3 separate regions of the Homo sapiens genome follow, and all the other regions are linked to region 3. Evidence: fine-mapped expression QTL. A gene starts in region 3. Each other region holds a variant in brackets. All regions are shown on one strand. Distances are from middle to middle.

Evidence for each region. PIP is the estimated chance that this variant, and not a neighbour inherited with it, causes the effect.
Region 1: its variant is fine-mapped to the expression of ADAMTSL2 in whole blood (TOPMed, PIP 0.95).
Region 2: its variant is fine-mapped to the expression of ADAMTSL2 in tibial nerve (GTEx, PIP 0.90).

Annotation. Positions count from the first base shown.
Region 1 is chr9:133,485,047-133,487,794 of GRCh38, reverse strand. No RefSeq gene overlaps it. Among named protein-coding and RNA genes, the nearest start is that of SLC2A6, 7.3 kb to the right of the region's middle. RefSeq lists enhancers at 1,366-1,880, 1,881-2,396. The variant T/G (reference allele first, on the strand shown) is at 1,283.
Region 2 is chr9:133,560,284-133,563,031 of GRCh38, reverse strand. It overlaps ADAMTSL2 (ADAMTS like 2), which reads right to left. Exons shown (of 19, transcript NM_014694.4): 12 at 1,737-1,834. Among named protein-coding and RNA genes, the nearest start is that of ADAMTSL2, 27 kb to the right of the region's middle. The variant A/C (reference allele first, on the strand shown) is at 1,240.
Region 3 is chr9:133,533,377-133,536,124 of GRCh38, reverse strand. It overlaps ADAMTSL2 (ADAMTS like 2), which reads right to left and starts at 1,421. Exons shown (of 19, transcript NM_014694.4): 1 at 1,208-1,421. RefSeq lists enhancers at 1-392, 933-1,474, 1,475-2,014, 2,015-2,556.

The DNA of each region.
Region 1 (2,748 bases), 48 kb after region 3:
GTAGGGGCAGCACGCTGGACTATGGTCTGCCCAGAGACAGAGACAGAGGAAGCGTACAGCCCCCCGGCTGCCCCATCATGGACACCGAGGTGTGTACTTTGGCTTCAGAAAGCTGGAGGAGGGAGAAGAGCCCCACCTACGGGGACCCCAGGAAGGACAAAGCGTGGTTTGGGAATGTGGAACCACGGCCTTGCCGCTCACTTGCCCCTTCTCGGTGGCTGCTTCTCGGAGGCTCCAGAGGCCTCCAGTTCCCTGAGGGGAGCAGTAGCTGGTGCAGAAGAACACAGAGTGACTTCTGAACTCCCCATAGTCTGTTCCTCTGCCTGGAACAGCCTCCCTGGGGACCCCGGCCCTGGCCTACTCCTCCTACACCCTAGAGCTCATCTGCCCCTTCCTGCAGGCCCTACTTACCCAGCCCAGCCCCAGCATGCTGCAGTGAGTCCAGCCTTCCCATTCCTGGTCATACCCCAGCTCCGTCAGGGATCCTGTTTACCCTGTTTCCCCGCAGGGGCTGGCTCACAGTAGAAATTTTTTTTTTCTTTTTTTTTTTGAGACGGAGTTTCACTCTTTTGCTCAGGCTGGAGTGCAATGGCTCAATCTCGGCTCACCGCAACTTCTGCCTCCTGGGTTCAAGCAATTCTCCTGCTTCAGCCTCCTGAGTAGCTGGGACTTCAGGTGGCCGCCACCATGCCCAACTAATTTTGTATTTTTAGTAGAGACGGGGTTTCTCCATGTTGGTCAGGCTGGTCTCGAACTCCTGACCTCAGATGATCCACCTGCCTCGGCCTCCCAAAGTGCTGGGATTACAGGCTTGAGCCACCGCACCCGGCCCACAGTAGAAATCTTGACAAGTACTTGTTCCGTGAGAGACGGCGGTGGGGGGTCTTGGAGCCTCCAGGAGACCTTCCAGCCCGAAGGTCTCCCACACTCCTCCCAGCCCTAAAAATGCTTCCCTGCTTCCTATGTCGAGGTCAGGGAGGGAGCTGTTGCGGCACAAAAGAGCATCAGGGCCCTGGGCCAGGGCCACAGGCAGCATTCTCTGACTCTAGAGCCCGGCTCACAACTTACCTCCGCCCTATGATTTTGTTAAGGAGATTATAGATATGGAGATGGGGAAAGAAGATAAATAGAAAATGTTAAAAATCTGTTCTCTCTGGGTAACAGGATTTGTGCTTATCCACATCCACAATCTCAAAATGTTCTGCACCAAAACATAAAAAGCCTTCAGCTCCTCAGCCCTGGCCTGGACTACCCAGAGGGCACCATGCAGCAGACGATGCGA[T/G]TCTATCTGTAGCCACCAGGTGGCAGCAAAGACCAGGGCACCCGCCTGGCCCAGCCCCAGCCTCCCACGGCACCTGCCTTCCCAACAGGGCCCAGAAGTGGGGTATTGTGAGCCCCATTGGATGACCAGGGAAACCAGGATCCAGGTGGGAAAAGGCACCTGCCCATGTCACAGCCCAGCACGGGCAGAGCCTGGACTAGAACCCCCATCTTCCAACTCACCCGCTCATTTCACCAGTACCTAGGGGTCACTTGGCTTTAACTGCGATACCCAAAAGGGCCTTGCAAAGATTCAGACGGGGCCAAGGTCCTGCAGCCAGCCTGGAGAGGAAGTGGATTTGAGCCCGATCTGCCTGAGCGCCGGGGCTGCGCGAGGCTCTCAGCCCAACATCCGGGGCCGTCCCCAGGAGCACGCCCCCTGCCTGCAATGGCAGAGTCCGGTGCCACCCAGGGGCCCCGCTGGGGAGTCTTGGGGTCCCGTTGGGGCTGCTTTGGGAAAGGGTGGAATGGAGTGCAGCCCAGGGTGTCGCTGGGAGGCCCCGCTGTGCCTCCCCTAACTCCGTGCCAGGCCCAGGCCCCCAACACTTTCCTGGAGCCCACATTAGCAGCAGCTTTGGCAAGGTCCGTCCCACACCAGCCAGGCCGAGAGCAGGAGGAACAGCAGGACAAGGGCTGCAGCCAGGGTCACGGAAGGCGCCAGGGTCACGGAAGGCACCAGGTCCGAGTCTTCAGGGTCATCACCAGGGACATCTCTGGGGACGTTGGGGACACCGGACAGCTGGGTGCCAGAGACCTTCTCCCCTGGGGGCCCTGGGCAGCCCATCTGTGGGAAGGAGGAGGCAAGGGGCAGGACCTCCTCGGGGAAGGCCCCACCTGCCCACCCTCTGCTGTCCCTCTGGTCTGCTCCCTCAGGAAGGCCTGATGTGGGTTGCATAGGCCAAAGCAGGGGGCATGAGGTGACCTAGAAGTGACCCTGGGCAGCAGCTCTGAGCTTCAGTCTTCTCCTCCATAAAACAGGGGTGAAGAAGACCCCCAGAGTGGGATGAGTATTCCCGGCATCTGCTCCCCGCCTCCCACCTTCCCAAGACACGGCAGCCCTACTGTCCCCTCGGAGACCTCGGCCCTGGTGCCAGGCCTGGAATGCAGCTTGGCCCGTTTCCGGGGAACTGGGAAGCTGTCAGACTGGTCTGGAGGGACCTTTGTCAAACTGCATCAACGCGGCCAGCTGCCCTCCCCCTGCACGGCAGCGGTGAGGTGGGCACAGGTGGCATCCATCCTACAGATGAGAAAAGTGAGGCTTAGCGGACCAGTGGCTCCTGAGAAGCCCCGGAGATTGGCAGAGGCCCCTATGGCAGCCCCCGTGGAGACCTGGGAAACAGCTTCCAAGTGCCAGGCCCCAGCCCTCCCCCGCAACAGGGCAGAGTCTGGACCAGATCATTTAAGCCCCAGCGCCCTGGACCAGCAAAC
Region 2 (2,748 bases), 27 kb before region 3:
CCTGGCCAAGCCGGTGCCCACCACGCCGCCCACAGCGGTGCGAGCCTGGCCAAGCCAGGTGCCCACCACGCCGCCCACAGCGGTGCGAGCCTGGCCAAGCCGGTGCCCACCACGCCGCCCACAGCGGTGCAAGCCTGGCCAAGCCGGGTGCCCACCACGCCTCCCACAGCGGTGCGAGCCTGGCCAAGCCGGGTGCCCACCACGCCGCCCACAGCGGTGCGAGCCTGGCCAAGCCGGTGCCCACCACGCCGCCCACAGCGGTGCGAGCCTGGCCAAGCCGGTGCCCACCACGCCGCCCACGGCGGTGCGAGCCTGGCCAAGTCGGGTGCCCACCACGCCGCCCACGGCGGTGCGAGCCTGGCCAAGCCGGTGCCCGCCACGCCGCCCACGGCGGTGCGAACCGGGCCCAGCCGGGTGCCCGCCACGCCGCCCACGGCGGTGCGAGCCGGGCCCAGCAGGGTGCCCGCCACGCCGCCCACGGCGGTGCGAGCCGGGCCCAGCCGGGTGCCCGCCACGCCGCCCACGGCGGTGCGAGCCTGGCCGAGCCGGGTGCCCGCCACGCCGCCCACGGCGGTGCGAGCCTGGCCGAGCCGGGTGCCCGCCACGCCGCCCACAGCACTTGCTTTTTCCCTCCAGGATGCCAGGCGCAGGGGCGAACACAGCATGCCCCATGGCTATGCCCTGTTTGGGGGCTCTTGTAACAGGAGGCAGAGCCCTTTCTTCAGTCCCAGAGAGGCAAGGCCAGTGTGAGCAGAGCCTGCAGGGCCGCCCCAGCCCCTCCCTCTCTCGGGCCCATCTCCTGAGATGCCAGCAGGGCTGCAGAGGGTGCGGCCAAGCTCAGACTGCCCAGCTGTGTGGAATCCTCACTGGCCAGAGACTGCAAGGGCATCAAATGCCCTGGCAAATGGGTGGCACTGGGGCGGGACCAGGAGCATCAAACCTTTTGAGGGCCAGCTGGGTATCCTCTACATCCAAACATGAAGCCCCAAGAATAGATAAAATGTGACCTCACAGCCGGCACTGGGGTCTCCCTGCCATATTTTCTCCCATCAACGGCCCTGTATCCTGATCCTGGGTTTGACATCAGACCTCGCGGCATCCCCCAGGGGAGGGTACTAGAGTGGGCAGCAGAGGCAGCTCCAGCTCTAGCGGCTGTGGCCAGCGTCTCAGGGCGATGGTGGCCGTGCAACCAGACAGCTGTGGGTTCAAATCCCAGCTCAACTCTTACTAACCACACAC[A/C]TCTGTCTGTCCAGGCACCACCGAGGAGGGTCTTTTTTCCCCTCCTAACTTCTCCCCTGCTGATGAGGTCCTAGAATTTGCCTACTTCCCTTCGTCACAGATCACAGGGGCCTATGACTCCCTTCCTATGTTTGCTGGAAGCAAAAGTAAAATCTCTGCTACCTAAGATTTCTTACTTTTAACCCAAAGGATGTTTGCCCTAACAAAACATGGTATCACTGGCAACAGACAAGGGCTACCACCAATGGGTGGTAGCCCGGATGACCCCCAGGGGCCTGGACCTGACCATGGTCTAGCACACTGTGAGAATGAGGGTGGCCTCACCAGACACCCAAACTCCTATCACGCCACACTGCCCCCAAGTCAGGAGGCCACGGACAAGCACCCCGAGGGCAGTTTGGGGGCTGCAAGCTAGTGGGTGGGCCCCACAGCCCCAGCCCATGTCCATGGAAATGGGTTCAGGGCAGTTGCTGCCCCTTGGCACCCGTGACCAGTACCTGTGGTGCAGGTGGCACTGCAGGGCTCGTGGGACGAGAGCTTCCACCGGTACATGTCCGCGGGACTCACGCCTTGCTTGCGCGCCTTGGGCCTGGTCCTGAAAGCGAGACCAAGCAGGGAAGGTGATGAGACGCTCCAGGCCCCACCGGCAGGCTCCGGCTTTTCAGGCGAGGGAGTTTTCTTCGGAGGGTATGTTCGCCTGAAGCACACACCTGTCCTGAGCCCCGGGCCGACCCTCCACCTGCTACGGTCAGAGTTCCCACTGTCTGAAGTGGAACGGATGAGGCGCCCGCAGAGGGGCACATTTTAGGATTGATTGGCATTGTTTTCCATCTCAACTGCATGGGAGCTGCCCGAGCTCCTTCCGGAGGGGAGGGGTGGCCTGAGAATTTGGGGCCCCCAGCACTGTAGTTGCTCCCTGCACACACGCAGGCTTCTCAATATTACCTTCTCACATCAGCTAGTGGGTTCCTTCTTCCCACCGGGGAGGGGACCTCAGAAGGTGTCTTATGTGCTAAGAATGTTCCAGAATTCTCTCCCACCCCCTCCTCCAGCTGGGACTCTGATGGAATGGGGGACACTAGGCATCCAGCCTCCAATTATCAAAATTAAAAAGCTCGGCTGCTGGCAGGGGCCGAGCCTACAGTGCAATTCAGGCAGGCCATGGCTGCACGGACCTGCTGGGGTCGGGGGAGGCACGCTGGGTCCCAGCCAGCCACCAGCTATGATTCTTGGCTGGAGCCTATGCAGCCAAAGCCAACTATTGTTAGGACTGTTTGCTTCTTTGAACCAGTAGGTGTGCCTGGGCCCAACCTCCACATCCAATGTGCAGGCTCATTCTGGACTCGGCAGGGGAGGAGGGAAGCAGAGGCGGCAGCAGCTCCACAGCCCGGGCATCTGCTCTGGGACGCCACCATGGAGTCCCGCCGCCCCTGAGCCAGAGAAGGGGCGATGGCAAGCCGGCGCGGTGGACAGCAGGTCCTTCGAGCCTCGACTTCCTTTTTAAACTGG
Region 3 (2,748 bases):
GCTCCACAGTCAGCATCCAGCAACAGCCGGCACTCAGGTGAGGCAGAACCCAGGTACCTATGCCGCCTCCCGATCCCCGGAGAGAAGATGGAATTGGGGGAGGGGCAGGGCAGGAGGAGGTGCAGTTTGTGCCAGCATGTCAGCAGTCCAGGGCCACAAGGCTGACTTCCTCCCAACAGCCAGCACCCTTGGCTCAAAACACCTGCCAGGGGTCAAAGCAAGCCCATTGGAAGGGACTGTCCAGCCTCCAGGCCCTCAGCTCTCCCCACCCCCTCCTCAGCGTCGACCCTGCCCTGTGGAAGGGAAGACCAGAGATCCACCATGACCTCTGTCCAGGCCTTGCTCAGGTGCTGAGGGTCACTTGCCAGCGAGTTAGAGAAGGGATTTCAGAAACCACGCAGCCTGCACTCATAACCTGGAGCCCAGAGAGGGGAGCCAACCTGCTCAAAGCCACACAGCAAGGTAGCACACTAGCAAACTCAGGGACTCGACCCCCACGCCTGGCCAATTCCAGGGGAAGAAGGCATGGAGGTCACCCCTCACCCCTGCCAGGCCAGAGGCCAACTCGGGCTCTGCCCCTCCCTCCTCAGCAGCCTCCATCCAACTTGAAGAGTTTCCTTGCAGGCCCGGCACCTGCAGATTTTCAGGGGCCACTCCAAGGACACCACTGCAGCCCGGACGACGCAGCAGTGCACCCTGGAGTGGGGAGCCTGAGTCTGACCTCCCCTGCCCCCGCCGCCTGCCCCCCACCTCCCTCCCCTGCAGACCTCCATCTGCACTCTCAGCCTCACACCCACAGGAGCCCCCTCCACTGTGCCATTGGCTAACGGGTGCCCCAGCCTCTGCCTGCCGGCTGAAGACAGGTGCCAGCCGGCCTCACACTTGCTTTTTTCATTAAGGCTTCCAGACACCACTGGCTTCTGGCCAGGCCTCGCTCACGGGGATCCATCCCTCCCTGGGGTCCAAAAGCAGCGGCTGGCGGCAGCAGAGAGGTCTGCCGTGCACACAGAGCTCCGGGCGCACAAGGCTAGGTGCTGGGAGGCCACCCTGCCCCGTGCTCTGCGGCCCGACCCCTCCCCACAAGCCTCCCCACGTTATGTAACGGCTCCAGAGGGCGCGGGGTGCTCCTACCCCCAGCCCCACTCTGAGCAGTGGGCTGGCCTGGTGGACGCTGCAACGTGAGGGGGACGGGGACGAGGTGGCCTACCTGGCTTCGGGTCAGCAGGTTGTCCTCCCAGAGAAAGGGGCGAGCGCTGCGGAGGGCAGACGGCGCCAGGTGCGCTGTGCGTGCGGGGGCGGCGTGAGTGCAGAGGCTGCGGCCCGGCCTCCCTCTCCCCTTCCCCTCCTCCCCCGCGCCGCCTCCCTCTCCCACTTCAAAGAGCATCCAAGAGAGGGGGTTCCCGGGAGGGGCGCAGCCCAGTGGCGGCTCTGCGCCGGCGGCCGCCTTTATAGCTGTCAGGCAGACGGGGAGGAACACTCACACTTCCCACCAGGCCGCTCCCCCGCCCGCGCCGGCCGGCCTGGCGCACACTTTAACCCGCTCTGCGCCTCTGGAGCCCGGCCAGGCCGGCCCAGCTGCCTGTTGGCTGCTGCCGGCGGCGGCGGCCCAGGAGCGGCGAGCAGGGAGGCCTTCTTCCCGGGTCCAGAACTGGGGGCCACATGTCGGGTGTCCAGACGGAGCAGCCGCTGGCCTGAGGTTACCGGGGAGGCTGGCGGTGGCAAAGCCCCAGCCCCGCCTGTCCGGCTTCTGCCTCCAGAGCGGGCCCTGTCCCTGGGGCTCCTGAGAATGGGGTCTGGGATGTATGAGGTGTCCCGTCTGATGGCTCCGTTGTACGGAGGGAAAGGCTGAACTTCCGGGACGACCGTGCCCCAGGTCACGAGCCTCAGAAAGCTCCCGAGATGCAGGGGCCTAAGCAGGTGGAGGGACGCAGGGAGACCCAGCGAGAATGAACCAAGGGCTCCAGGGAGGAGACAGATGTGCCCGTGGCCTGCTGACCAGATGGCTAGAGCAGCCAGGGCCAGGGCAGAGAGGCTCAGGGATTCTGCAGATGTCCAGCACCAACTTGGCAGCCCCTGGCAGGCCAGGCCTGGAGCTCAAGCCTCTGTTCCTGCTGAGTCAGGGCACAGAGGGGAGCGAGAGTGGGTGGAGCAGCAGAGCCCCCCTGGGAAACTCCCGGCGGGCCCCAGACTTTGTGAGGCTTTCCTAAAGCAAGGCTGGGCACCTAGCCTCTGCACACCAGCTTCCCCAGAGCCCATCCTCGGCAAACAGAGGCACCTCCAAAAAGGGGAGGAGGAGGAAGCTGGGGCACCATTCCATCAGGTCATCTGTGTCTTTTCATCCATGCCCCTGCCTCCATGCAGCAGATGTCCTGGGCCCACAGCAGTGCCGGGAAGACACTTCTCCTTCCCTCTGTCCTCCCTGCTGGAAGAAACTTGTGAGTTCCTTCAGCTGCCTTCATGAGAAAGTTCTGCCCTGTGTCTGACCACCCACCAGAAAGGCTGGGAAGGAAAGCCACCAGTAATAGTAGTGAAAGCGATAATACCGTCTGCCCTCTGTCCAGCTTGTCCTACGGGCCCAGAGCTGTGAGGCCAGATCCACCTTTATGATCTGCATTTCACAGGTGGAAGAACTGAGGTTCGGGGACCAAGTCACCTCTCCAGTAGGCAAGGCTGGGATGCCAGCGCTCCTGAGTGTCGGGTTCTCTCCTCTGCCGGGTTGTTTAAGTTTCTCTCCCCGGGACCCTCGGG